2 separate regions of the Homo sapiens genome follow, and region 1 is linked to region 2. Evidence: fine-mapped expression QTL. A gene starts in region 2. The other region holds a variant in brackets. All regions are shown on one strand. Distances are between the middles of the regions.

Region 1 (15,015 bases), 20 kb before region 2:
GTTACAGGGCACACAGTGGCCCCAGGGGAGGCTGTGGGGTAGGAAAGGAAACCACCCGCCGTGGGTGCTGCAGGCCGGACCTGTTTGCCAGAGGCAGGTTCACTCCTCCTAGTGATGTAATGGTGCCCGTCTGTAGAATAGAAGCACAAGGCTGGAAGACATTGTACAGTGTCTATTTCACCAGGTTCCCTGGCTGGTAGGTGGTACAACTGGGCTTTAGAGCCCTTTTCTGCAACACGAGGAGATGGTCAGGTCCACCCAGAAGTCAGGAAGCAGGAGGAGGAGTCCTCAAAGATAGGAACCTGCTCTATCCTTCAAGACACCGTCTGAACCCCTCCAAGCTCCGTTTGTCCCCTACTGTGGAATAGCGGGTGGGACAGGTGCTACCGCACTCTGGCCTCTCCTGACTGCCCGGCTCTGTGGCCACAATGTACTTGCTGCTGGCCCCAGGCATGGCCAGGAGGTGGGAGCAGCAGCCTTTGTGAGGGCAGGGAGTGAGTGCCACCAGCCTTGAGGGCTGAGAGTGCCCAAGAGGGACAGTGGGCCCAGGGTGTGTTCTAAAGGGAATTTCATGCCCTGGGCACTTTTCCAAGAGCTGGAATTCTGAGGTCCTGGGACGCTCGTGGCCCACCACCCTTAGGTTGCCAAACAGAGCCAGGATAGGTGTTGCGAGGGTTGCTGGAGCCCAGGTGTGGGGCCCAGGCACAGTCACACCAGCCCCTCTCGCTCCCCAGGATGCAGCACCCAATGGGGCAGTGAGACCCCTGAGACAGAGGCTGCTGCGTATGGAGGGCAGCACGGTGCAGAGACCACCCGCCAGGGGACTGGATAATGGGGCCAGGCTTGACGGTGTCTGTGGGGCAGGCAGGGTGGGCTCTTAATTGGAAAAGGAGGTGAAAAGAGAAGAAAGGACTGGAGGCTGAGGGAGCCAAAGCAGCCAGGAACGCCGTGGACAAAGGGTGGGTGGCAGGCGGGAGTCGGCACCCCCTGCATGGGGGCCTCAATAGGCGTGAGAGATCCCGCCCACCCGCACCCTCCCCACACACCCATCTGCAGGCTCCAGCCCAGCAGGCCCCAGGGCAGCTGTTTGGGGGAAGCAAGACGAAGTCTGAGGAGGGGGCTCCTCAGCCACAGGCCCCCCCAACAGAGTGGGAGCATCCTCCCAGAGGCCACAGTGAGCACTGTGGATGAATGGATGATGCGCGGAGGAATGAATGAATGAGCGGGTGAGTGGGCGTGTGAGCTCCCGACCTCGCAATGAATGAATGAGCAGGTGAGTGGGCCTGTGAGCTCCCGACCACGCAATGAATGAATGAGCGGGTGAGTGGGCGCGTGACCTCCCGACCACGCAATGAATGAATGAGCGGGTGAGTGGGCGCGTGAGCTCCCGACCTCGCAATGAATGAATGAGCGGGTGAGTGGGCGCGTGAGCTCCCGACCACGCAATGAATGAATGAGCGGGTGAGTGGGCGCGTGAGCTCCCGACCTCGCAATGAATGAATGAGCGGGTGAGTGGGCGCGTGAGCTCCCGACCTCGCAATGAATGAATGAGCGGGTGAGTGGGCGCGTGAGCTCCCGACCTCGCAATGAATGAATGAGCGGGTGAGTGGGCGCGTGACCTCCCGACCACGCAATGAATGAATGAGCGGGTGAGTGGGCGCGTGAGCTCCCGACCACGCAATGAATGAATGAGCGGGTGAGTGGGCGCGTGAGCTCCCGACCACGCAATGAATGAATGAGCGGGTGAGTGGGCGCGTGAGCTCCCGACCTCGCAATGAATGAATGAGCGGGTGAGTGGGCGCGTGAGCTCCCGACCACGCAATGAATGAATGAGCGGGTGAGTGGGCGCGTGAGCTCCCGACCTCGCAATGAATGAATGAGCGGGTGAGTGGGCGCGTGAGCTCCCGACCACGCAATGAATGAATGAGCGGGTGAGTGGGCGCGTGAGCTCCCGACCACGCAATGAATGAATGAGCGGGTGAGTGGGCGCGTGAGCTCCCGACCTCGCAATGAATGAATGAGCGGGTGAGTGGGCGCGTGAGCTCCCGACCACGCAATGAATGAATGAGGGGGTGAGTGGGCGCGTGAGCTCCCGACCACGCAATGAATGAATGAGCGGGTGAGTGGGCGCGTGAGCTCCCGACCACGCAATGAATGAATGAGCGGGTGAGTGGGCGCGTGACCTCCCGACCACGCAATGAATGAATGAGCGGGTGAGTGGGCGCGTGAGCTCCCGACCTCGCAATGAATGAATGAGCGGGTGAGTGGGCGCGTGAGCTCCCGACCACGCAATGAATGAATGAGCGGGTGAGTGGGCGCGTGAGCTCCCGACCACGCAATGAATGAATGAGCGGGTGAGTGGGCGTGTGAGCTCCCGACCTCGCAATGAATGAATGAGCGGGTGAGTGGGCGTGTGACCTCCTGACCACGCAATGAATGAATGAGCGGGTGAGTGGGCGTGTGAGCTCCCGACCACGCAATGAATGAATGAGCGGGTGAGTGGGCGTGTGACCTCCTGACCATGCAGGGGCTGGAAGCGCCCTCAGGATCCCCTGCCCAATCACTCACGCAGGGCAGGGTCCCTAACCCTCACTGCCCCCCGGGTGAGGATGTCTACTGGGCCTCCCCTCTCCCTCCTCCCTCCCTCCTTCCCCCTTTTCACCCCCTCTTTCTCCCTCCCCTCCCTCCCCCTCCACCTTTACCAGGCATTCTCACCTCCTCACTCAGAACTCCTGCCAACACTGCCCTCTGACACCCCCTCTGCAGCACCATGACCCTGAGTGCCCTTGGCCACCCCCACCAGACAGACCCTCAGGGATCAGCCCAGGCCTTCTGGTCTCCTGGGCCCACCAGGCCACCGCAGGACCATGCAGGACCCAATGCTCAGGGCCATGCACTCCAGCTGCCCAGGTGGGGGCACTGCCATTTCACACTCCCACCCTCACCATCACCCCCCGGCCTCGGCCCCATTCCCCATCCCAGCCGCCCCCTGCAGGCCCCACCCCCTACACCGCGAGATCCCCAATGCACCTCCTACTCTGCCTTGCTCATGTGGTCCCTCCACACCAAATGGGGGGACCATCTCTGCTGGGAGGTCCCTGCCCAGGTGCGGCCTAAACCCGGGAGGCCTGTGCAACAACCCCACTCATCTCCCCAGCAACCTCCACGAGGAAAGCCTTATGGTCAGAGCATGAAAGCAGGGGACTTTAGGGCCAGCCATGCTGGGGCCCAATCCAGCCCCATCTCTGTCCTGCCAGTCACACAGGGTGGCAGGTCCCATCCCACCTCTGAGCCTCAGTTTCCCCATTGAAACCTGCAGGCAGCATCCCCAGCCGGGACTGTTGCAGGGTCCTATGAGACGCTTGGTGCCAGGGAGGTGCCAGGCAGGTACACCACCAGCACAAGGGAGCAGGTCCCAGCTCCCTCCCCGGACACCGCAGCTCCCCAGCACTCCCCCAGAGCAGCCCCGCTGTGGGGGGTCAGAGCCTCCCAAGAGCAGGACCTCTGCTGTCACCAGGCACAGAGTGCCCATGGGGCCAGAGAGCTGGCCCAGGCCCACACAGCTTTCCCTGGACATGGGGGATGAGGGAGACAGGCCTCCCCTGGCCTCCCACTCCTAGCTCCTTCTGTCCCACCAGGGGGAGGGTCTCATGGGCACAAATTCCCCAGAACTACCCTTGAGTGAATGGCTGGTTCAAAACTTTTAATTATCAAAATATACATGTATGTCTATTTAATTTGCTTTTATGAAACTCAGATCTCAATTTAACCTGGATGGTCATCTGGCAGGTCACGGGAGGGCAGTTCCAGTCATTCATGACCTCTCCTCGTTCCTCTCTTCCACTGGTGAGGGTTGGGGCGGGCAGCTGAGGCCACCCTTCCTGGCAGACCAGGCCAGCACCCACCTCTCAGCCTGCCCGCCTGCGTGCGTGCCCACCAGCGAGGAAGATCCAGCCTCACCCTGAGCTGTGGAGAGGGCGGCCTGGGTCCCCGTGGTAGGCTTAGGCCCAAGCCTGAGGCTCTGGTGCTGGCCCTGCCTGATCCTGGCCACCTCCCTTTGGCTGGGTCCTCATGGGCAGAACCCACTCATGACAGATTGTTCTCTCATGGGGCAGTGGCACAGCTGCCCCACCTCCAGGGCTGCTGGCGCATTGTATGAGGCCACCTGTGAGAAGGAACCTGCCCAGCCCTGGCAGCTGGTAGGGGCTCAATCAATGGAGGTGACAATGACGCCGATGACAATAATGGTGAGGACGGTGGTGGCATCATGAGGAAAAAGAGTTGGTCATTGGAGGTTCTGGGGGTCAGATTTTTGGATCTCGGCCTGAAGAAGCGCCTTCGGAGCGCAGGGATTGTTTGCTTCACAACAAACTTCCTGAGCCTGCAGGCAGAGGTTGAGGAGGGCCCACCAGCGATGCCTGCGGCAAGGCCAGGTCAAGCCAGGCCTCCTGGATATCCCCGCCCCTGAGTGCCTGGCCCACTTCCCACCTCTCCTGGGCTGAATTACGTTTTCCCAACTTCCTATGCTGAAGGCGGCCCTCGGGGTGCGACTGCCTTTAGAGATTGGGTCTTTATCGAGGTTATTAAGGTGGAATGAGGTCACTGGGGTGGGGTCTGATACAGTCTGACTGGGGTCCTTGTAAGAAGAGGAGACTGGGACGCACACAGAGGGAAGGTGGCCATCCGTAGGCCAAGGAGAGAGGCCTCAGGAGAAAGCAGCCCTGCCCACGCCTTGAGCCGTCTTCAAGCCATGACATGAGAGAACCCACGTCTGCCGTGTGGGCGCCGGCTGTGGTCCTCCCGCAAACTCATGCACCACCCTCTGCAACCTGCCAGCACCACAAGGACACCCAGGCTCTGCAGGCCCTGCCACTGTCTGACCCCCAAGAGGGGCACGGACCAGCCCAGCCACCAGCCCCGGCAGAGCCCAGGTGTCCCAACTCCTTTAGATACAGACACCCCTGCCCAGAGGGGACAGCATTTCCTCCTGAGCGAGGAGCTGCTGTCCCCCAGGGCCTGGAGGCCTGGGCAGCCACCACTCAGATGCTTGTCTGTTTGTCCACTTTGTGCCTGCCACAAGCTCACTCGGCAGAGCAGGCAGCTCCAAAAATGGCCCCTCCTCACTGGTGGGGAGTCCTGGTCTCCCCACAGCCTTGGGTGGAGACAGGAGCCCCCATTCAGGCCTCTCCCTCTCCAGAGGTGCCCTGGGCCACCAGAGGGGCCAGCTGCTCCCCACATGCCCCCCAGCCCTCTCCAGCACCCCCCTGCCCATGATGCCCTGCTCCGCTCTCCTCCTCAGCAGGCCCGGTGGACTCACCCTCAGCCACCAGCGTCCAACCGCAGGGCAGATTTTGGTGACATCCAAATTGCCAGGCAGGTTGCAGAGGTTCCAGCAGTGTGAACCCGAGGAGGGACCCTGGGCTGATTTTCCCTGTCTCAGGCTGTCACATTCCCAGAGGCTTTTTCACCGAGGCTTTTAACAGCCGCAACTCTGCCCCAGAACAAATTATGTGCAAACCAGGCGGCTGCCGTTCATTCTCCCTCTGAGCCCTTGTTCCGGGCGGGGCCGGGGTGAGCATGGCAGCCCGGACGCCTCCTGGGGCTGAATCTGGGAGCCCAGCACCCCCAACCTGACCTCCCGGCTCAGGCTGCCCAGGGAGGGTGAGCAGGGCCCAGCAGCCCCCAAAGGCCCTGTCCTCCCATCCCGACACTGCCACAGGGTGACCGCAGTGCAGGGAGCCCCTCGTTCAGCAGTCGGCACCCCAAAGCCCTCTGCAGCCTGGAAATGCAGCACTTCCCCAAGGCTTCGTGTGGCCCCCAGGACCATTCCCCACTGCCCTGTGCACCACAGGCTGCAGGACCCACACAGGACTGGGAGCCGCTGGAGGTGCCAGGGGCCTCTCACCACCCCAAGCACACAGCCCCGGACCACGGCTCCGGGAGGTCCTGACTCACAGACTTGTGCTCTCAGTCCAGAGCGGAGCCCTCCCATAGACATCTGTCCCCTCCT[C/T]GGGGACACACACACTCTCACACTCACATCAATGCACAACACACACACTCTCACCCACTCACACATGCACACACTTCCGCTCGCTCACAGTGGCACACACCCCACGGCCAGCAAGAGGGCCCTGGCACTGCAGGCCTCCTGACTCCCCGGCCAGGGCACCCTGTGGCCCCAGCTCCTCTGGAGGGGCGGACTCTCAAAGGCCCCAGGGCCAAGACGGCATCTCTTGCACTGTAGAGTGCTGTGTAGGCCCTTCCCTGGACCAGTCTCTGAGCCCAACCAGGAGTAGGTCCAGGAAGGCAGCCATCACCATGAGACCTCTGAATCTGGGCACCCCAGCTGAGGGGACAGAGATGGCTCATTCTTCCCTGCTATCTGCCTGTCTCCCTCCCGCCCAGCTCTGGGCCACCTCCGAGGCAATGCTGGCCTGTGTCAGAGTGATCTCTGCATTGGGAAACAGCGTCAACGCTGGCCAAAGCCTTCATCCTGGCCAGGCTAGGAGTCATCCTGGGAGTGGCCCACGAGGCAAGGCAAACGCCTGCCCCGCCTGCCCAGCCCCTGGCCTCCCAGGACAGACTGCATTGCAATTCTGCTGCAGGTTGATACTTCCTGTCGACACATTAAACAGGCTTCTCTTGCATTCTGCCAGGGTCTGTGCATCTCCTCCACCCCCACAAGGATGCAGTGTGTTTGAGCTGTGTGTCAATCTCATCAGGGCGCAAAGGCGCTCTGCTGAGGTCTTTGCAGCGTCAATGAAAATCAGGTCCAGGAATCAGCCTAGGAGTCTGCTCAGCAGCAGCCCTGGCAGCCCCCATCCAGCAGGATCAGGGCCCTGCCCAAAGAGAGGTAGGTGCCACCCTTGCCCCTTGATGGCAAGGGGACTTCAAGTAAGCCTCTCCCATGTGCTCATTCTGTCCTTCTGTGGAAAATGTAACTGCTAGGGCTCTGGGTTAAGAGCTCAGCCAGGAGCCCGGACCCCACTTCCTGGCTCCCTAGAACCTTAGTTTCTTCATCATGGAATGGGATTTTTTTTTCCTTTTATCCAATTATGCTTTTTGCTATTGTTGCTTATAATCTTTTATTTATATTTTGTCCTTATTACTTTTCATATCATTATAACTGGCCAGATGTTTAACTTGTATCTTTTTTAATTTTTAATTTTTGTGAGTACATAGTAGGTGTATATATTTATGGGGTACATGAGATGTTTTGATACAAGCAGGGAATGTGAAATAATCGCATCATGGAGAATGGGGTATCCATCCCCTCAAGCATTTATCCTTATTCAGTTATTCTTTTAGCAATCAGTGCTGACTATGTGGCTGGCCTAATGTAGGAATTCAGCATACATATACCACTGTACACTAAACGTGAATGTCCCAGGGCCCTGAGGAAAGAGCTCTGGACCAGAAGTGAGCATGGTTCAGGCTACACACCTTCCACTCAGCAAATAGATGTTGTATAGCAGATGGCTCAGAGTTGAGGGTAAGAGTATGGGGTCTCCACCCAGACACTATCATCTGACTCCCACTTCAGCCTTTGTGAAGGTATCTGACCTTTAAAAATTATTTAAATCCCCTTGCCTTGTTTTCCTCCTTCAGAGAATGAGGATAATAGTTAGAGTCACTCTCAGGCCACTGAGAGACCAGATGGACTTCACTGTTCACAGAGCTCAGGCTATGCCTCGTCAGGATGGTGCTCAGGTGGTTCAGCTGCTGTTATTACTGCCACCCACATTATTGCTGTGTCCCCACTGGCTCTGCCAGGCCATTGAGGCTGGAAAAGGGCGCCAAGTGTCAGTGACCATGATGCATTCTCCATCCTAGGGGGCAGCTAGCCAGGGGAAATGAGGAGGGTCATTGTAGATGGCAGGAAACCCAGAGATCCATCCTGGATCCACCCTGGGGTGGGTGTCACCTGCTCTTCAGAATGCAGTGGAAAACACCAGGTGAGGGAGAAGTCCTCACCTGTCTGTAGCTCGGGCAAGGTTGAGGTATCCCCTTGCTGCATCCCCCTTTCCCTCACACCAGCCTCAGCCTCCTGCTCTGTGTCTTGCCTTGGGTGGCTGGAAGAGGAGCAGGCCAGGCTGTGTCACTGTGAACTGGGAAGCACCCTCTATGGGCAGGGATGGGGTTTCTGTTGACCACCCACTGTCCTGGGCCTGAGCAGTCATCCTGCATGGGAAGGCCGGGGATCTGACCCTGACCTCCCCACTTAGTGGATCGTTCACTTCCCATGCAGGGCAGGGGACAGGTGTCTGCTCACACCTGCTCAGGGAGGGTAACAGGCTCTATCTTGGCACAGAGAGGACCCCAAGAGGCTGGGAGCCCAACAGCACATGCCCCCTCCACAGCCATGCAGTCCCCAGAGCCCACAGTGTCCACTGCCTTGGGAGCCCTCCCCAGCCCATCCTTATCCCTCCAAGCCCCCTTCCCACCCCCGACAGCTCTTCCACCTGCCGCAGCTGCAGGAGAGCAGAAGGGGCACCGACCACCAGGAGCCGCGGGCCCCAGGGCCACAGCATGCTTCTGGCCGGGGCAGGAATTCAGGGTCAGGGGAAAGGACTAATTATGGCTCGAGGATAAAAACGTGAGCCAGGCAGCTGTGTGCATGGAAGGAATGCTCCCCTCAGAGACACGTTTTCCGACTCCTGGACTGCCGAGAATGCACGCTTTGACATTTATGAGGCCCGGGTCCCCCATAAACCCAGATTCCAAAGCGGCGGACAGCTGGTCTGATCCTGGGCATCCAAGGTTGCAGAGCCCTGGGCCCCACGGCCATTTACAATGGGGACATTTGCATTCACTCTGCAGCTGAGGAGCCTTGCTTCTGGACCTGCTGACATTTGCTGAGCAGCTACGGAGCCCAAACTGCAGAATCTGGAGTCACCTTCGCACCGGCAGCAACTTGAGAAGTGCAGGAGATGTGTTCCTTCAGCAGCTGAGGGGACAGAGGCTCCAAGAGGCTGAGAAGCTCCGTCGAGGCCAGGAGCCAGCCGTAACCAGCTGTCTCCCTGCACATAACTGCCCGCTCCAGCAGCACAGGCCCTGGCTGGTTGTTATGCTTTCCAATAAGAATCAAATTGGAAAACAGTTTCCAAATGTCAGCAGTGTTCTTGTTGGGCAGCAGTACTATTGAGAGATGGTTGCTCTTTATTTCCTTTTCTATATTTTCTGCTTTTTCCTGTCCTTACAACAGAAAATAGGAGATGTCTCTGTCCATAAGTAGCAGATTAGTGACTAGGACCAACTCTTCCACTGAACACAACTAGAAAAGCTGGATTAAAATATTTCAATTGGCCAGGCATGGTGGCCCATGCCTATAATCCCAGCACTTTGGGAGGTCAAGGTGGGTGGCTCACTCGTGGCCAGGAGCTCAGGACCAGCCTGGACAATATAGAGAAACCCCGTCTCTACTACCAAAAATACAAAAAAAAAATAATAATAACCTAGCCTAATGTGGTGGCGCACACCTGTGGTCTTAGCTACTTGGGGGGCTGAGGTAGGAGGATCCCTTGAGCCTGAGAGGTGGAGGATGCAGTGAGCCACGATCAGCCTAGGTGACAGAGTGAGACCCTGTCTCAAAAAAAAAATTTTTTTCCAATCTTCTTTAAAGCAGAAAAGAGCAAATCAGGTAGCAAAGAATGCACTACCAGGCCAAAACCTTGGAGGAGTTGAGAGCCCAGCAAGTACTGCAAAACATAAGCAAGAGTCAGCTGCTTCTGCTTTAAAGAACTTTGCAGCCTCAGGAATGACTGTTGCACCCATCAGCCCCCTCAATGGCAGGTGAGGGAGAACCAGCAAGGCTCAGAGGACTCTTAAGAGCCAGCCATGGGCATCTTTTTCCAATCCCACACTCAGTGATGTTGTGTTGGTAACTTGAAGTCAGCCATGGCAGGAGTGTTTACACCATGGGAATTGGCAGGTGCTACAGATCAAAACTGTTTTTTTTTATGAAGAGCCAGTTATTAATTATTTATCAGCATGGCATTAGGGACAACAGAGTCAAAGCCCAGAGTTGGTAAGAGAGAGGAATCCGACAAGGCCCCAACTCTAAGCCTGAAGGCCATGGGTGAGTCAGAAGTAAATCAGTCCTTGTGTGGGCCTGCCATTTGTGATGGTGACTTCAGAGGTCCTGCTCCAGGAAATCTCAAGGCTTAAACTTCGTGTAAAATACTTCCAGACAGGTAGTGCCCCACTAGGCACCTGCAAAAAGCAAACCAACACCATCCTTAAAGAAAGGTACTATTGGCCAGGTGCCGTGGCTCATGCCTGTAATCCCAGGACTTTGGTATACTTGAGGTCAGGAGTTGGAGACCAGCCTGGCCAACATGGTGAAACTCTGCCTCTACTAAAAATACAAAAATTAGCCGGGTATGGTGGCACATGCCTGTAATCCCAGCTACTCAGGAGGCTGAGGCAGGAGAATCGCTTGAACCCGGGAGGTGGAGGTTACAGTTAGCTGAGCTCACACCACTACACTCCAGCCTGGGCAACAAAGTGAAACTCATCAAGAAAAGAAAAGAAAAGAAGAGGGGAGGGGAGGGGAGGGGAGGGGAGCAGAGGGGAGGGGAGGGGAGGGGAGAGGAGAGGAGGGGAGAGGAGAGGAGAGGAGGGGAGGGGACAGAAGAGGAGAGGGGAGGAGAGGAGAGGAGAGGAGAGGAGGGGACAGGAGAGGAGAGGAGAGGAGAGGAGAGGAAAGGAGAGGAACTATCATCCTAAGGCTCAAATTATTCTTACAAGCAATTTTTCAATACAATCTCTAGCACACAAAGATAACCACACACAAAATGAAATTAAATTCACAATCAAGAGCCAGCAAAAACAAAAGACAATAGAAACAGATGCACAAAGACTTCAGGTTTTGGAATTATAAGCAGAAGATCAGATCACATCAAATAACGATGCTTGCTAAGTTTAAAAGATTCAAAAATTCAAACATATCACAGGAGACTGAAAACTATAAAACATGTCAGAGAAGATTTGGAAAAGAACCAAATAAAAATATTTAAAACTGAAAATTAACCAAAAATTAGAACTCAATGCCTAAGTTGTTTTTTTTTTTGTTGTTGTTGTTGTTTGAGACAGAGTCTGGCTCTGTCGCCCAAGCTGGAGTGCAGTGGCGCGATCTCAGCTCACTGCAAGCTCCGCCTCCCGGGTTCGCGCCATTCTCCTGCCTCAGCCTCCCGAGTAGCTGGGACTACAGGCACCCGCCACCACGCCCGGCTAATTTTTTTTTTTTTTTTTTTTTTTTTTTTTTTTTAGTAGAGACGGGGTTTCACCGTGTTGGCCAGGATGGTCTTGATCTCCTGACCTCATGATCCGCCCGCCTCAGCCTCCCAAAGTGCTGGGATTACAGGTGTGAGCCACCATGCCCGGCCAATGCATAAGTTTTAACAGCAGATTTTATACAGCTAAAGAAAGATGAATAAACTAGAAAACCAATCTAAAGACAGTGTCCAAAATGCAACAGGAGACAAAACCAACCAAACAAACAAACAAAAACAGGAAAAACAAATTCAAATTGTATTTCTACATCAACAAACAAGTAAAAAAATGTAATTTAAAAGCATCAAAGAATATTGGGCATCTAGGAATATATCTAACAAATTTATCTGAGACTAAAAATTGTATTGACAGAAATAAGGAACACCAAATAACAAGATAAAACATGCTCCTGTATTGGAAGATACAACCTGTGAAGATGCCAGTTCTTCCTGAATTGCTTTGGTTCAATAATATTCCACCCAAAACCCCAACAGCACTTGGTTCTGTGTCTATGGGAAGCTTAACAAACTGACTGTATAATGTGAATAGTAGCATAAAGAGCCTAGAGCTGCCCGGATACCCTCAAGGAAGAATTTTTTTTTTTTTTGTAAACCTATAACTGCTCAAAAAATAGTCTTTTTTTCTTTTCTTTTTTTTTTTTTTTTTTTTTTGAGATGGAGTCTCACTCTGTCACCCAGGCTGGAGTGCAGTGGCGCAATCTTGGCTCACTGCAACCTCCACCTCCCAGGTTCAAGCTATTCTCCTGCCTCAGCCTCCCAAGTAGCTGGGATTACAGGCATGTGCCACTATGCCCAGCTAATTTTTGTTTTGTTTTTAGTAGAGATTGGGTTTCGCCATGTTGGCCAGGCTGGTCTTGAACTCCTGACCCCAGGTGATCTGCCCAGCTTGGTGTCTCAAAGTGCTGAGATTACAGGCGTGAGCCACCGCGTCCAGACTAAAAAAATAGTCTATTAATTAGAAACAATAACAGATTGGCATTATCTAAAAGGGTTGAAGAGGCGCACATCTCATGACCTGGCAATTCCACTCCTGGGGAGGGACCCTAGGACAAGTGGGCACATGGGCGAGAGTGTTCACAGTAGCATGGGCCACTCAGCCAATTCAGATACCACCCAAGTGTTCATCAACAGCAGAATGGATGAGAAGCCTGTTGTATGTTCGCATGATGGAACATGGTGGAGCCATGGAAGCCAACGGACTATAGCTAGAGAAACCAAGAACTCAACACACTGAGATTATTTCACACCCCTATACAGGAAGATGCAATGTTATCAAGGTTGGCTGCACATCAGACAAAACAGCAGGTGAAAGAAACAAGGAACAAAGCAATCACCTAGCTTTATTCTATTTACATAAACCCCCACCCTGGCCCCGACGGGGAAAGCCACACCAGCTTGTTTAGGGTTGCTAGGACAGAAGTGTTGCCCATATAAGGAGGAGGCAAGAGTGACCGCAGGTGCAGGGGCTCTGCTGGAAGGGTGCAGGGGGAGGGGAATGAGGCTGGGGAACTCTACCGGGTGATCTGGATGGCAGTCACACAGATGCGGGCTCTGAAGTTACACATCCTGTTGTACATTTATGATGCATGTCCTTTTCTATATGGGTGTTGCATTCAAAAATAAAATAAGCATCAAAACAAGAATCGGCTTTGTTCTCTTATTTGATTTATTCTGCTTAATTCAAGGTGCAAATGACCAGCCACTGTCATCACTCCGGGTCCAAGCATCCCCCAGGCCGCATGGCATTGGGCACCTCTGGCATTTCTGGGCGAGTGGACCGGCCAGCCCCAGCCTCCTCGCCCACACAGAGGCTCTCGCCCAGCGTCACCAGGGCCTGGTGTGGGCCTTGTCCCATGGCCATGAAGCACCCTCCTGGGCCAGGCCGCCCCAGTGCTCCCTGCCCTGGAAGCTGCCTCCTCTGCCGTTTCCTGCCTCCTCAGCACAGAAATAACCCCACGTCAGGCACCAGCATGTGTGTGTGGGCTTCTCCCAAGCACACGCAGAGAAGTGACTAACGGGGTGTCACTTTACCAGCGCCTGCAGCGGGGACCCCCACGTGGGCCAACTGGAAGCTTCCAACAGGCTCGCGTTGTGCTGATCAATCATTAATCTGGACATTCAAAAGCATTTTATTTGCTTGACAAGGAGCTGATTGCTGAAGTTGCCAGGAGCCCGAAGTCATTTTTCTCCTTCCTCCCCCTATGAAAAAGCATTCTCCTCCTGGCTAGAGGGGCAGCAGGGCCTGCCAGCGCAGGTGGGGTCCTTGCTGCCCCCCGTCTCATGCTGAGAACTGCAGCGCCTGCCCCCAGCCCCACCACCTCCAAGGCCTTGGCACCTGAGCCCCTCACTTTCTCTTCACACCCCTTCTGCCGTCCTTTCTCATAGCTCTGCCCCCTGCCCTGCCCTGGCCCAGGACTCACCAGCTCCCTCCCCCACAGGGCATAGGCCAACTACACCCCCACCCCTGCAGCCTTCAGGGCCAGCCCAGAGGCCACCTCCACCCATGTTTGGGGCCCCTCTCCAGGACTCCCAGGGCAGCCTTGTTCTCCCACCCCTCCTGGCAGTGCCTCCAGCACCCTGATGCTTGTGCTGTGGCCTTCAGACCCATCCAAAATAAGTTAGGCATGGGAGGTCACTTCATGATCACCAGCTTGAGCCAAAGGGATTGAGACAGTGGCCCATACACCCAGCCAGCCTCAAACAGACCCACTCACCCCGGGGCTTCCCCTCAGGCCCTGTCTCGCAGGAGTCACAGCCTCGAGCATGGCTTCGGTCTTCAAGAAACACCCCCATGGCCTCCCCAGAGCCTAAATCCAGCCCTGAGCAGCCAGAAAGTTCAGGGACAATCACCCCCATGACACAGAGGACAAACCGAGGCCAAAGGAGAAACCTCCTCCAAAGACAACGCGGCACTGCTCACCTAGGGCCCTCCGGTCAAGCCACGAAACTTGCCCCTTCCCTGAGGAGGAGCCAACGTGTTCACCGGAGGGGTCCCTGGCAGCGGAGGTGGCTGCAGTGTGGGCACCACTCTTATGAAGCATCCATCAGAGGCTCCTCCGGTGCATGGCCAGGGGCCTCCACACTCTCGGGGGCCTGAGGGCAGGCGTAGCCTGGCTCCTCCTCAGCCGCACGTCTGGCAGTCTTTCTCTTCTCGCTACAGCTGACATCTGGCTCTCCCCAGAACCCCTACAGTCCTTCAGGCCCCCACAGCCCCAACTCCAGCTCAGGATTGGTCCCTCCGCCATGGCTGCTGCTTGTCAGTCACTCATCAATGGCTTCAGCTTTGGGCCACTCGCTGGGAGGGACAGGATGGTATCCACCTCCCAAAATTCAGATATCAGAGCCCTAAACTCCAGGACCTCAGAATGGGACTGTATTTGGGGATAGGCTCTTTAAAGAGCTGATTCCATTAAAGGGAGGTCATGAGGGTGGCCCTGTTTGCATCCGAGGGGTGTCCTGATAGTAGATTAGGACATAGGCACACCACCCGGAGGAACAGGGAGGAGGTGGCATCTGTAAGCCCAGGACGGGGCCAGAGAGGAAACCAGCCCTGCAATTCCAGGGCCTCAGAGTTCCGGCCTCCAACATCGTGAGAAAGTTCATTTCTGCTTTTGCCCCACCGGTCTGTGGTACTGGCTATGGCAACCCCAGCCAGCCAACGTACTCACAGCCTCTGAGCATCATGGGACGGCCAGTCCATCTGCCCCCTGACCCAGTGACC
Region 2 (15,015 bases):
AAGCCCCATACCACCTGCACAAGCACCCCCTCCCCATCAGCAGACCCCACATCAGTCACCACAGCTTCACAGCCTTGACCCTCAAGCTTTCCCCATGCTGCCTGCCTACCCAGCCTGGTGTCCTGGTAGTGGGAAGACCTACCACTGGACTCCACAGACAAATGCCAGTGCATGGATCCCAGGGGGTTGAGCCACTTGATCCCTGGATCCCATGGATCTGGCATACTCAGCAGCCAGATTAGCAGCCTCCCTTGCAGGCCGGACTTGGGGGATAAATAGAGGCAAGGATGGAATTAGCATCTTCAGATCTCTCTGGGATGGGAACAAAACCACAATCTCTGCCAAGTTGATGATAATGAAGAGATGATGACAATGACAGGGATGATAATAATGATGACAATGACCATGATGATGATGGTGATGATGGTGATGTGATGGTAATGATGTGATGGTGATAACGATGATGATGACAGTGATAGTGATTATAATGATGGTGATATGATAGTGATGGTGATGATGGTGATGATAATGATGGCAATGATGATGGTGATGATGATGGCAATGATGGTGATGATGATGTGATAGTAATGCTGATGACAGTGATGGTATAGCTATAATGATGATGATGTGATGGTGATGATAATGGTGATGAAGATGATGGTAATGATGGTGGTGATATGCTCATGGTGGTGTGTAATGGTAAGGATGGTGGTGGTGACGATGATGCAATAGTGATGATGATGGTGATGGTGGTGATGATGGTAATGGTGATGATGGTGGTGAGAGTGATGTGATGGTGATAATATTGATTATGATGATGATGGTGATGATGGTGATGGTAATGATGGTGGTGATGATGGAGTGTAATGGTGATGGTGATGATGATGGTGGTGGTGATGACGGAGTGTAATGGTGATGGTGATGATGACGGTGACGGTGATGATGGTGATGATGATGATGGGGTGATGGTCATGGTGATGATGATGGTGTTGATGATGTTGATGGAGTGTAATGGTGATGGTGATGATGGTGGTGGTGATGGTGATGGTGGTGATGTTGATGATGGAGTGTAATGGCGATGGTGATGATGGTGGTGATGTTGATGGAGTGTTATGGTGATGGTAATGATGATGGTAATGATGGTGATGATGTGACAGTGATGATCATGATGGTAATGATGATGGTGGTGAGGGTGTTGTGATGGTGATATGATGATTATGGTGATGGTGACAATGACAATGATGACAGCCATCTTCTGTTAACCACCAACTACATGTTAGGTACTCCCCATGCATAGACTCATTTGATTCTCACAACCATTTAGAAAGATGAATGGCATGTCCTCCCTCCATGGAGGAGCAAACTCAGACTCCTCAACTTTAAATGTTCACTAAAGTGGACACAGAGCTAGAGTCAAGCTTTAGGCTCAGGCCAGGCCCCACCACCAAGTGCTGGTGCAGGGCTGGACTGTATGAGCCCTTGTCATTGTTCTCTGAATTATCTCAGCAAGCCTGCTGTGGTTGTCATTTTACAGATGAGGAAAGTGGGTCCCAGATGGGGTAAATGACTCAACAAAAGTCAAAGCTCCATCAGCAAGTGGCAGGTCTGAGGGGCAGCATCACGTCCCAGAGTGCTGGAGGGGCAGGCAGAGGCCTGGCCTCTTGGCAACTATGAGCCTCCATGCCTTCATCTCATCTGTCATTATAGCAGTAAGGGTCATCCTGACCACCTTAGAGGTGCCCGAGGAGATGCACAGAATGTCAGGCACCCACCAGGTGCTTGGCAAACCCCGCAGGGTCTAGCCAATCCCAGAACCAGGCTCCAGCTCCCAGTCCTGTGCTCCTCTCCTTTGCTGCCCTTGCCCCTCTGGCCAGACCTCCAGGACCATCAGTGGACTCAGGTCGTGGCCTGGGAAGCTGCAGACCTGAGCGAGGAGAAACATGGTGAGGAGCAGCTAGAGGCTGAGCCTCCTCCAACATCCCCACCAGGACAGCCTTGTAAGCAATGAAATGGTTAAGGCCTCCCAGCCCAGCAGAATTGGCTCATTATCATTTCTAATATGGATCAATACTCTTCAGGCATCTGACAAAGCCGGCAGCTCTCTGTTCCCTTCCTGCCCTCCAAACATAAAAGATCCCCTAAGCCACACTGGCCCGGGGCTCTGGCCCTAGCCCCCTCCTCAGGCCTCATCTCCATAGTGGTCTTAATCAAGTCGTGGGGAAAGATGCAAGTCAATAAGTCCTCATTGATCACCTCCTCTCCCCTCCACCCCACTGACATTCTGTCAGCCCCTCCCCCACAGCCAGCCGGGCTAATGGGGGTCCTTGCCTCCCACGTAGGTAGTGGGTGGGGGGTGCTCGTGAAAGCCCTGATTGCTCTGAGGCCCAGGGCCTCCGTCGCAGCGAGGGCTCCAACACAACATATGCCTCCTGCCCGACGGCTTTGTCTTCAACAATAAAACAGGGTTTCTCTCCCGCCTCAGCCCTGGGTCCAATTTATCAGGCCTGGCACTGATCATCTGCTTCCCTGTCACCAGCCGGACTTGGGGGATAAATATAGGCAAGCAGATACAGAATTACCGTGACCAGATCTCTCTGGGTCGGGAACAAAAACCACTTTACACTCCTTATGAAGCATTTCCACCATCACAGACATGAAGGCAAAGGGGCGGGACCCCAGCAACCAACGGGAGCTCATCCTTCCCCTTGTAAGAGCCAGAGGAAGCTGCCACATGGAGCTCCCAGGCTGTGTTCCTTTGGGAAGTCACCTGCAGTGACTGAGCCTCAGTTTCCCATCAGGGACACCTACCTTGCAGGGCTGCGACAAGCACTCACGGAGAGAATAAAACAAAGGATCTTCCACTGAGCTTAGCAGACAGTGGGTGCTCCGTGAACGGCAGTTAGCGCTGCTGCCTTTAACGGTGCGACTGTCCACAGCCAGGTATGGCATTCGGGATGTGTCACGTCCACGCCCCACGGAAATGTCAGTGACAGTTCGCACCCTTGTTCGTCCTCAGCCATCACTCCTAGAGCTGCCATCTGCAGACAGTGACCAGCTCAGGGTGGCACCACAGGCCCGCCCTGCCCTTTTGAGGCTCTGCAGGGCTGCCGCAGGAGCTCCAGGTAGATTGATGCCCGCCTGTGGCAGAGGTCCCCAGCGGCTCTGCACAACATCTCAACAAATGTTCCTGGACAGGCGGCCTGGGCTGGAAGCCGATCAAACACCATAAATACTGCGCACCCAAGGCCGTGACTACATTACCGCACGGTGTGTAAATAACAGGCCCGGGGTGGAAACACCCGGGAACAACCTCTAGCCAAGTAATTTATGCCCCTGTGAAACCCGATTAGATCCCAGCTAAGTGACTTCGCGGACGGGCAGGCCGCTTTGGAGAGAGAGAGACTGAGTGAGCGGCCACCACAAGCACCCAGGGGGGCCTTCGTGGGGCCATCATCTCCCCTGTGAGGGGGCAGGCTTGGAGCTCAGGCATCCCATCAGGCTGGGTGGGGTAGCATCTTGGTGACCCAGGCCACCCAGGGGTGATGACCCCACTTTAGCGTGTGGTGGGAGGCACCCTGCAGATGCATCCTACCCAGGCAGGATGGACACCCCGTCCGCAGCCCCTGGGACACAGCAGGCCCAGCCTCTCGGTGCATTTCAGTCTAAATGTAGATGCAAGTTCAGTCAAGGCCTCAGCCAGGAGCCGCCCTGCACAACGAGGCTAGCATTACATGTGCCCCTCCTGGGCAGGGTCCCCGGCAGATGGAAAACATGGGCCTGGGGCGGGGACGGCTCCTGACCCAGGATAAGGACCACAGTGGCCAGGTCAGGGTGGCACCACAGGCCTGCTCTGCCATGCCAGCCCTGCCAGGCTGACCACAGTTAGCAGGGTCTGTCAGAGGTGGCCGGGGCAGCAGGAGGGCAGGACACAGCCCAGGCCTTGAGGCAGGCACCACTCAAGAGCAACCGGCCACCAAGTCCTCCCTCAGAAGGGGCTTGTGTCACATCCCCTTGCACTCCCCGCTGCTCCCCCTCCACAGCCCCCCAAAGGGGCTCTACCCCTGGTGCCCATTTCCCCATGGCCCACATACCCCAAGTGCTGCCCCACGGCTACTGCTCCTGCCTTCTCGCTGAGCCTCGCCTTGGGCCCACCCTGCTCCCTGCTTCCCTCTGGCCTGGCCACTCACCAGGCAGTTGGGGCACACTGGTGTGCAGATCTGGGGGCCGGGCACTGAAGTCAGCTCAGGCTCAGAAGCCAGGCAGAGCTGGGTTCAAATCCCAGCACTGCCCGTCTTAGCTGAGTGACTTGAACAAGTAATGTTAACCCAGCCTCAGTTTACTCCTCTGTAAAGGAGACAATAGTGCCTCCCCTGATTTCCCTGATAGGGGTGGGTATCCCAAGTGAGAGAGAGAAGGTCAGTACCCAGAAAACCCTGGGGGACGGTAAGAGAGTGCTCTGGAAGCCACCTGTGGCTACTGGCCAGGTGGCAGTGGTGAGGGAGGGGTGGGTGAGGCTCAGGAATCTGGACCCATGGGAACAAGGGCTGCACTGGGACCCAGGCTGCGGGCGTCCCCTCTCGCCACCTTGGGCAAAGTACTCCACCTCTGTGAGCTCCCAGGGGGCCCTGTCTACCCATCCTCACAGGAACACAGGAAGGATCTGGTCACGTCACCTCTGCTCAAGCCCTCTGGTGGCTTCCTAGTATTTCTAGAGTCAAGTCCAAGGCCTTTCCACCTCGTACCCAGCTTCCTGCCCATTCACTCCACCCTCCTGCCACCACCAAAGTCTACGCTCCAATCACCTTGAACAAGTTACTCTTCCCAAGCAATTCTACCTCTCCATGCCTCCCCCTAGAGTCACCTTAGTCTCCAGCTCTGCCTAGTGAATTCCTATTGATACTGCAAGACTCAGCCCAAATGGCCCAACCTCTACGAAACTGTCCATTGTTCTCAAAGCAGAGTTAAGTCACACCTTCCTCTGAGCCCCCACAGTAGCCTTGGCTTAGTCAGAAAGGAGATCAGTATGACTTACCCCTTTCCAGGAACTACTTCCTGTTCTCCACCCCACAGCTATTGCAAACCTGCTAGGTTAGTGCACTGTGACCCCACTGCCCTGGCCCCAGCTGAGTGATCCTAAGGGAGCCACCTGATTCAGGCTGGGCCAATCAGAGCACTTTTCCAGGGTTACTGGAACTTGAACTAGGAAACAAAAGTCAATTTATCTCTGGTGGCCAGAGGTGTAAGGTGCAAAATTGGGGAGCCTCCAGCCACACATTTGCCACACGTGGAACAAACCAGTGAGAGAGCTGAGGCCTGACCTGGGAAGGAGACCTCTGGGCCTTGGCCCTGGTGGCCCCTAAATCCCAGCTGCCTCCCATCCTGGGGATTCAACCATCCTTAGATTCCACAGGATGCCCAGGTCTCATCCAGCAAATCCTTCAGCCCCAGCTACTGTGAGAGTTTCTGTCACTGTTAACCTGTGAGTCCCCATCCCTGGAGACAGTGATGGTCTCATCAGGCTGACGGCCCTACATGGGGCAATTCATTCAGCCCCTAATGAAAGCTCAGCCGCAAAGCCCCCACTGACACGGGTTCTTGCAAGGCCTAGAACCAATTAGATATTTCTACTTTTAAATTTTCTTTCTTAAAGAAGACCCCCCAAAGTTGCACAAGCATAAGACCCCTGGGATCCTTCTCTGGCCACTGCAGCCTGGGAGTCTCCAGGGCAGGCCTCTGTCTGTGAGTCTCTCTGGGCCATGCCCAGCACACAGGAAATGCACAGGAAGCGAGGACACAACCCCATTGAATCCCTGGAGCCCTGCATCTCATAACTAATTTAGCACTTCCTGGCCTGGCCCCCTTAATAACACAGGCACAGGAAAGCGTGCAGAGGAGGGAGGACAAGGAGGCTCAGCTGCTGACACCTGCAGGTCAGTTCTGTCTTTCTTCTAGCACAAGCCTATTGCTAGCAAGGGGCCAGGCTGGCTCACTGTGGCACCTCTGTGCCCCCAGGCCCCACAGGGGCCACCTCATCTGACCACTGTCCCAGCGGCCAGAGAGACCTGCTGGGTCTGCACTGAGAGCCTGGGCCCATGCAAATGACCCCTCCTGGTTCAGGAGCCACCACCACAAGGGCTATGAGGAACCAGGGACCCTCATCCCATCCCCGGCACCACTAAAACGAAACGTTAGGCTCATCGGAGTTCCTACCACTAAATCAAACACTAATCTGCTCCCCCTAATTTATCTAAGACAATATTAGCCAGACAAAATGAAACATAAATGTGAGTATGAGCCCGGCTATCTGGGAAGTGGGAGCAGGCGGCCTGGGGAAATGGATTTATCGTGTGTTTGCTGAGGCAGGCCAGGCATGCATGCCCGCAGAAGGCTGGTAGCTCCAGCTCGGCCCGGGCTAGCCTCACACAGGCGTCCACCTAAAGGCACATCAGCTTCCTCCCCAGGAAACAGTGTCGGGCACCATTGGAGCTTGAGAAACGGGAAAGTGAACCAGGGTGCCCTGCAGCTGCTGAGAATAATTCACACCAAAAGATTTCTCCAAGTGTTAGCGGACCTAAAATATCAGTGAGAGAGTTGGAAGCAAGCCGTATACCCAGAAGGACCCTGGTGGACATGCTACTTTGGTAAACAACTAATGGGATCCTAGAGTCAGAGGCAGAGGAGTAGCCCCACATAACCCACCAGTGACCATCAGTGACACATCTGTCAGGCTGTCAGGTGTGTGGCATGTGGCTGTCCTGTCTAACTTCCACCACAGCCCAAGGCCACCGGGATTTAACCCAATTCCCAGGTAAGAAAACTGGCTCCAGAGAGTGAAAACCACTTGCCCAAGATCCACGTCAATGAGATCTGAAGCAAGTCACACCCACCTTCACTCAGAGCAGCCCCGGGAGCCACACCTGCCTTCACTCAGAGCAGCCCCAGGGAGCCACACCTGCCTTCACTCTAAGCAGCCCGCGGGAGCCACACCTGCCTTCACTCTGAGCTGCCCCTGGGAGCCACACCCACCTTCACTCTGAGCAGCCCGCGGGAGCCACACCCGCCTTCACTCTGAGCAGCCCTCGGGAGCCACACCTGCCTTCACTCTGAGCTGCCCCTGGGAGCCACACCCACCTTCACTCTGAGCAGCCCGCGGGAGCCACACCTGCCTTCACTCAGAGCAGCCCCAGGGAGCCACACCTGCCTTCACTCTGAGCTGCCCCGGGGAGTCACACCTGCCTTCACTCCGAGCAGCCCCGGGGAGCCACACCTGCCTTCACTCCGAGCAGCCCCAGGGAGCCACACCTGCTTTCACTCAGAGCAGCCCCAGGGAGCCACACCCGCCTTCACTCTGAGCTGCCCCCGGGAGTCACAACCGCCTTCACTCCGAGCAGCCCCGGGGAGTCACAACCGCCTTCACTCTGAGCTGCCCCAGGGAGCCACACCTGCCTTCACTCAGAGCAGCCCCAGGGAGCCACACCTGCCTTCACTCAGAGCAGCCCCGGGGAGTCACACCTGCCTTCACTCAGAGCAGCCCCGGGGAGCCACACCTGCCTTCACTCCGAGCAGCCCCAGGGAGCCACACCTGCTTTCACTCAGAGCAGCCCCAGGGAGCCACACCCACCTTCACTCTGAGCTGCCCCCGGGAGTCACAACCGCCTTCACTCCGAGCAGCCCCGGGGAGTCACAACCGCCTTCACTCTGAGCTGCCCCAGGGAGCCACACCTGCCTTCACTCAGAGCAGCCCCAGGGAGCCACACCTGCCTTCACTCAGAGCAGCCCCAGGGAGCCACACCCACCTTCACTCCGAGCAGCCCCGGGGAGTCACACCCACCTTCACTCTGAGCAGTCTCCAGATCCCAGGAGGAAATGCAGCTGGGGTGATGGTGGGCATCTACCCACCATGGGTCAGCAACGCCCCCTGGGAGGCATCTTCCCTCCATCCCACCAACGACAGCACTGCTCTTAGCCCCACTCTGTTGAGAGTAGGGAGACGTGCCCAAGGTCACAGCAAGGTCAGGCCCTCCCTGACCCAAGCCTTGTGGCCTCTCCTCCACCCAGGCCGAGCCCAGCCGGCGTTCAGCAGCCAGGGACAGGCTTGCGGCCTGGAAACCTCTGGACCAGGCAGGGGCCCACAGCTCCTTCTGCCCCAGGTGTCTGTACAGCCCTGTGGTCACTGCTGCTCTGTCCCCTGCCTGGAAAATGGGCTGAAGCCACATGGATGAGACCACCTGAGGCAGCAGGTGGAGCCGAAGGTCCCTGTCCCTGGAGAGCATGGGGCCCCCGAGCACCCAAGGTCCCGGCCAGATCCAGCCCCTGAGCAGAGGCTGAGTGCTGTGGCATGGATGGGTGGGTCTGAGCCGGGAGCCCCCACTGTGAAGTGGGACTGGGAAGCCCAAACACCAGCAGGGGGCGCTCGGCTCAGATCACTGGCGCTGGCGGAGACACCAAGTCTGTAGACTGGCTCCGAGGTGGCCGGTGGTCTAGGGGACCCCCCACCCACACCCCTCTCTGGTTATCCCAGGGCCACCACAGACTACACGCCACCAGCCTGGCTCCTCCAGAGCAGACATCCAGCTTCTGGCCGCAGACCCCACCCAGATCTGCCTTCCAGCACATTCTGCCCCCTCCCCAGGGCCCTGGAGCAGATTACATCGAACCCCTTGAGCTTCCTGCCAAGGACAAGTGAGGGGCCAGGAGAGGGAAGCCCCATAAATCTCTTTGGAGACATGTGCCAAGATACCAGACACCAAAATCTCATTAGCAGGCTAAACTCTCGGGAGGAAATGGAAAATAAGTACCCGCAGATACAGGCCTGGAAACCGCAGGACCCCGAGCAGGAGACATGGATTAGTGGAGATGATATCCACGGGACAAGCTGTTGCCACAGGGGTTTTGCATGTTTTTTTTGTTTTTGTTTGTTTGTTTTTGCTTTAACTACAGTTTAAGTATAGCAGGACCCTCAGCACACCGGGTAGGTGGGGTTGAGGCCCTTTATTCACAAGAGAGGAGAGGAGGGAGGGCGAGGCCTGGCGGCAGAGGCACAGGGGGCAGGCAGGCAGCCGGGCCCTCCCAGGAGGGCATTCGTTCGGGAGCGTGGCTGCGCTGGGGCCCCGTCCATGCTGCTCAGAGCCCTGGCGCGTAACAGCTCCTTCCACGCAGGGAAAATCCATCCAGGTTTAATGGAAACATTAACCTCAACTCACCCGATTTCCTCCTCGCACTGAGGTCTGAGAACGGGAAGAGGCTCCGAGGCTGGAGCTCCCCAAGGCCTGGCACAGACGCGGGCCCACGGGTCCGGGAACACTCAGCGAGGGCCGGGACAGTGACAGTGGGTGCCTTCATCAGAGCAGAAGCAGCCCCAGGACGCCCCCACCCCTCTCGCCAGCTCAGCCAGCGTGCTCTTCACAGGCTGGACATGACAGACAGGAAGAGGAAAGCCCCTCCCCCAGCACTCAGCTGCTCATGCTCCCTCCGGAGTCTGCGCAAATTACCAAGGAAAGGGGGTGGCCCAGGCAGCTACGCCGTGTCCAAGGTCACCTGGTCCCCCTGGCGCAGTTCCAGGACACCCCAGGCAGGAGGTTGTCAGAGAAAGGAGGAGGCAGCTGGGGTGGGGGCGGGGGCGGCAGGCTGCCTGCAGAGGCGGGAGGGCAGGGTCGGGGAGGGGCTTTGGGGAGAGTAGGAGTCTGGGAGTGGACCACGCCCTCACACCCTGCCCCCTCAGCCATCAGCAGAGTGACCCAGAGCGGGAACTTGGCCAACGGTGAAGGCCACAGCAGGGGCCCAGAGGGGCTTGTACAGGGCACGTGCCGTAGGGTGCACAGCCACCACCCCGCGTGGCAGAGGCCTTAGCAAGAAAACTGAGGGAGTCTGCTGGGGGCCTCCAACAGTGGGGAGTGGGGGAGAAGACGCTGGCCTCCAAGTCCCTGACAGCTCCATCTATACCTCAGCAGGGAGGGGCAGGGTTGGTCCGAGACCAGGGTCAGGGCCCAACCCATTTTGAAGGGTCCGAGAGGCAGCTGCCCTCAAGAGACCTAGCTTGTGGCTTTGGTCTCCTCTGCACCCTTCAGGGCAGCCCTGTGCCATGACCCCGCACTGACCCTGACACAGGAGGCTGTACCCAAGGAGCTGGCACTTGGGGATGGGCCACAAAGCCATAAGAGCCTTCCAAGCAAAGACGCAGAAGGCCAGGAGTGGAGTCCCCGTCTCTTGGGCTGCAGGCCAGCACTCCCTGACCCATGCTGGGTTGAGGACCCCAGGCAGGCCTGAGGGACAGGCTGGCCGCATGTTCCCACCCTCAGGTGCCCCTGTGTGATGGCCTTGGTCACACCACCTACTGTCCCCCACCACATTGAATGACCCGCCCATGGGATCTGTGGTCTAGCAGTTTGAGACTAACTTCGATTTCTTCCTCTCCTTTTGTCCTGCCAGCCCCACCAAGAGGCCTGTGCACAGAGCCCAGGGGAGCCCGAAGCTCCCTGACACCATAGAGACCCCCTAACTGGCACAACGCTCCATGCAGGCAGAGCCAGGCCACAGCCACAGCACCATCAGAAGACGGGAGGCGGCTGTGCCTGGCCCAGGGAGCAGCAGGTGTGCAAGAGAGCAGGTCTTTCACCTGTGCTCCGAGGTGAGCAGGAAGATCTTTCTCCAATTGCCCTAAATGTGGGAGCCTGGTTTTCCATGTCAGAGAACAAACATTCCATCATTTTTATCTTTTCTGTCAGGTCCCAGAGCAGCTGCTTTGCCAGCGTCTCTGTTGGCAGGTGGCTCCATGTGAAGTCATCAGAGCCGGGCTCAGGCCACCCAGATGACGCACAGAGACAACCCCCCAGCAGGTCAGAGGGTGGCGGCCCAAGGTGGCTGCAGAGGACAAAGCGGGGAGGAGGGGCCTGGCCCCCCTCCGCAGGGTGCAGGCTCCCAGCACATCTGGGCGCCAAGGGTCCTGGTACCATGAGGGGTAGAGCAGCTCAAGGGCACCAGGCCAGCCACTGCCCGGAGGCTTCCCCAGCCCACACCCACCAGGGCTGCCCCTCAGCCTGGGGCCTTCCAGACCACCCTCCACCCACAGGGCGGCATCCCCCCTCTTCATGGCGTCTGAACACCTCTCATCTCTTCATAGCATCCGAGACCCTCCGGAACACCTCTCCACATCCACCTACCCGGGCCCCGGCCCTCTGTGCTGTTCTATGCTGCAGGTTTGCCCAGGGGGTGCCCCCACCGCACCCCCTTCTGGGGGCCAAAGGCTCAGGCTACACGCCTGGGGAGCACTGGTGGCCTTTGCCTGGGTCTCGGGTCCCCATGTTCCCCCACCCCAGCTCCTCGCCATGGGCTGACTCCCAGTCTCACTCGTTTCCGCTGCGTAGGAGCAGAGACTTTCAGGAAGGACTCCATAGTCCTTGAGACCACCTCTCTCCCCAGCTGTCAATGCCACCGGGGGTGCCTAAGAGCCCAGGGAGCCTGCATGCCACCCACCACGTGGCCTGGTGGGGAGGCTCTGACCAGCGTTTCATTTGCAGACCGGGTTCCTGGCTGTGCTCCCTTCCCTGGGGCAGCCCGGCCTGAGAGGCAGGAGTTCTGGGGACCTGGGGAGGGCACCTGTGCGGATGCAGGGTACACAGATGGCCTGCGGAGACAGTGGGTCCTGAGCGTGGAGAGTCACCAGCAGGTCCGAGCCTGAGAGAGTTGGGTGGGGCCCATGCAGGGTCGGCTCCAGGAGCTCCGGTGGGGAGAGTCAGGATGGGCCGAGAGCCAGCAGGGCAGAGGGGAACTCAAAGGGCCCCCAGTGTGCCCCATGTTCCTGACTTCCTAGGAGGCAGTTTCTGCAGTCCCCAGATACAGATGGGAACAGAGACACAGGGTGGCTGAGTTCCCAGCCGGGGCAGGTGGCTGGCAAAGGAGCCCTGGCAGAGCCCTGTGACCCCAGATTCCAATCCCCTCAGCCCAACGCCCTTTCCTTCCTCCTCTCCCTCTGGAGGACCCCCCGCCCCGCTACAGAGCAGGGTCCTGGCCCCGAGACGTCGCTTCACCCTGCTTTTCGCAGGGAAGCACGTGCAGCCGCGGGAGGATAGAGGGGCCCCAGCTGCCCCCGCCATGCCGCCCGCCACAGAGGGGACACGGCTTTGGACCACACGCAGAGCTCCCGCCAAGCTGGTGAGTGTAAAGTGGGCTTTTGTCGGCGGCCCACGACAGCTCCCTCTCGGGGTCTTCCCATGTCCTCAAAGACAAAGGGAGCTTGTCCCAGAAGAGGACCCTGGGGAGGCCTCGGGGCTGTCCTGCTTCCGAGGGAATGAGCCTGGCCCCCAAAGGAGCAAGCCCATCCCCCTCCAAGCCCTCTCACCCCAAAGCCAAACATTCCTTGAGGCCAAGCCCACAGGCCCATTGGGCTGCCTTCCGGAAGGGCGATAAATCCACAGGCGGAATAATCCCCAAGCCCAGAGCCTCCGTATATCAGAGGGACCAGCTGTCATCAGTTCAGTAGCCACCTCCTTCCTGGCCAGTGTTGGCCCCACACACACTCGTGCTCAAGTCTCGGGGAAGCAGCCACCGCCGCAGGCTGGGCCTCCTGCGGGGCGGGGGCGAAATACGTATAGATGTGGAATCCAGACCCAGAGACTCACAGCAGCATTGAGTGAGCCCCCCACACACGGCTAGCCTTGCCACCCCTCCTGGTTATGGGGACAGGCAGGAAGCTGACGTTATGTATTCATCTGTACCTCCGGAACTGTCACCGAGCCGCCTTATTTACTGACCCTGTTACCAGCCAATGTGGACTTCAGCCCAAAGCCACCGCCCTAATGGATGCGGATCAGGGTCAGCTTCTCTCAGAGAGGCTTGAACTCTGAAAGGGGATGATCAGCTTCTACGTCATTGGGGGAGGGGGCCGGGTGGACCCCGCTTCACATAGGATGTGCAGCCCTGAAGGGGTCAGGGTTTCTGGGCAGCTGCTGAGCCAAATTAAATACCACCTCCCTCTGAGTCTGTGAGAGAGGACACACGGCTGGGAAGAGCCCCCCGCCCCGCACCATGTCTGACTCCAGCCTACCCCACGTGCACCCTCCCAGCCAAGCTGGCAAAGAGGAGCCCCCTCCCCCGCGCCTCCCATCTGGAACCCACCCTGACATCCGCAGGCCGCTAATTGCACAGCGGCCGGTGCCAGAGTCTTCCCAGGTTGTTAAAATTCATCACCGAGTTCCCCCGACTCCAAGCCTGCTGCCCGCGCAGCCAATCGCGGCCACCCGGGCCTCATCCAGGAGGCGATCTGTGAGCCCGGGCACCTGCAGAGACCTCTGTCGCTATCCCATTAGGAGGGGCCCCAGAAGGATGCACACCAAAAGCATCCCGCAGCCTGTCATTAAATATTGATAAAAGGCAGGAGGGGAGAACACTATGCAAACTATTTATTGATTTTCCATGTGCGGAACTGAGATAATGAGAGGCCAGAGGACAGTGAGGGGCTGGGGGCCTGGGGGGTTGGGGGGCTGGGAAGGGACTCTTGGTGCCAGCTCAGCAGGGACTCATGGAAGGACCGGAGCAGACAGAGAGGCAGTGTCCCACACACCTGGGCCCGAATTCCAGCTTTGCTGCTTACGGGTTTTTGGTACCTTTTTTTTTTTTTAACAGAACCATTTGCTTTTTTTTTTTTTTTTTAACTTTAAAACAGTTTGCATAGTAAATGTTTAAGAATTGGTGGTCACATGTATATTATGAAAATCCCTCTGTAAAAAATCTCGAAGACCTGAATTCTACATCTACTTTAAAGAACAGTAATGCTTATATTTTCAAGAAAGAACAAAAATGCCGCCCTTTTCAGTGAAAAGGCACAGCCAGCCCCTGCTTCCAGCTGTGAAAGACCAGGCTGGACCCATGAGGCAGGTCAGAGGCTTCCAGGAGGTGTCCTCCCTGCCTGGTGGAGCCTAATGGCTCCAGAACATTCTGCTCTCCCAACAGCAATGCCTCACAGGTGGCACTGGGCACCCTACACGTCTCATCTCATTGGATCCTAAATTAGCCTTGCAGCCTGTACCAGGCCCTGTTAGCCCCAACTCACCAGCGGGGCTGAGATTGGGCCAATCTGCAAACCCACGTCTGCAGCGGCTTCAGAAACCAGCGGGTCCACCCTTCACTCTGGAGAGATTCTGATGCAAAGCAGTCCCTTTCAAAAGTAGAGTTTTTAAGAAGCAGCTGCTTGGTCATCCAGAAACCTCCATATTCCAGACCTGACCTTGCGGGTGTCTCCTGGCCTCACGTGTCTACACGGAGGATGCTTGCTCCTCAGTCCCCCAAGTCCTGGGAGATGAGGGGCCCGGGTAGGCACCTGTCACATTCCCTCAGCCAGGACTTCACCACCCAGCCCTGCATTGAACAAAATGTGAAAACTGAGGCCCAGGGAGGAGCCAGGACGTGCCCCAGGTCCCCCAGCCAGCAGGACAACGCGGGGCCTCCAACCCTCAGCCGAAGGCGCGGTTCCCTGCACTCCCCTCCCCACAGGCGCAGTCCAGGCCTCTGCACTGCCCTCCAAGGCGCGGGCTCCAGGGGACCTGCCACTGGCCCAGACAGGCCTCCCCGGGGCTGAGCGGAAATCAGGAACGACAGGGAAGGGCCCTGAGCCCTGAGAGGGTGAGAACTGCTTGTTTACGAGGCTAATCCCCCAAGAGAGCCCAAGGTGAGGAGGAACGGCTGAGCAAAATCATCACCGCTGCCACCATGTGGGCTCTGGTCTGTCCATCCACAGCCCCCAGGACCCAGGGGGGCCCCTTCATGACCACTCCCTACTTGGGAAGAGCCCCCGACATGGGAGCATACCAGCCGCCACTTCACTTCAGGGGGCCCAGGGCTGGGAGTTCAGGCTGTCGTCCTCAGTGGGCCCCGAGAGCACTCTCCACTCCCTCACCCAGTCTGGAGGATGAGAGTTCAGGCCAGCAGACACCTCTGTCAGCTGCTCACCCCAGCCCCACAGAGGGGACTGTCTCTGCCTCATCTGTACCTGGTCTGGCTTCTGCTCCTGCCTCCTGACTC

The links.
Region 1: its variant is fine-mapped to the expression of LINC02691 in lung (GTEx, PIP 0.92).

Annotation. Positions count from the first base shown.
Region 1 is chr14:104,238,294-104,253,308 of GRCh38, reverse strand. All of the region lies in intron 1 of LINC02691 (long intergenic non-protein coding RNA 2691), which reads right to left. Among named protein-coding and RNA genes, the nearest start is that of LINC02691, 22 kb to the right of the region's middle. RefSeq lists enhancers at 12,628-13,472, 13,473-14,318. The variant C/T (reference allele first, on the strand shown) is at 6,011.
Region 2 is chr14:104,218,005-104,233,019 of GRCh38, reverse strand. It overlaps LINC02691 (long intergenic non-protein coding RNA 2691), which reads right to left and starts at 9,436. Exons shown (of 3, transcript NR_146612.1): 1 at 9,204-9,436. RefSeq lists an enhancer at 9,582-10,474.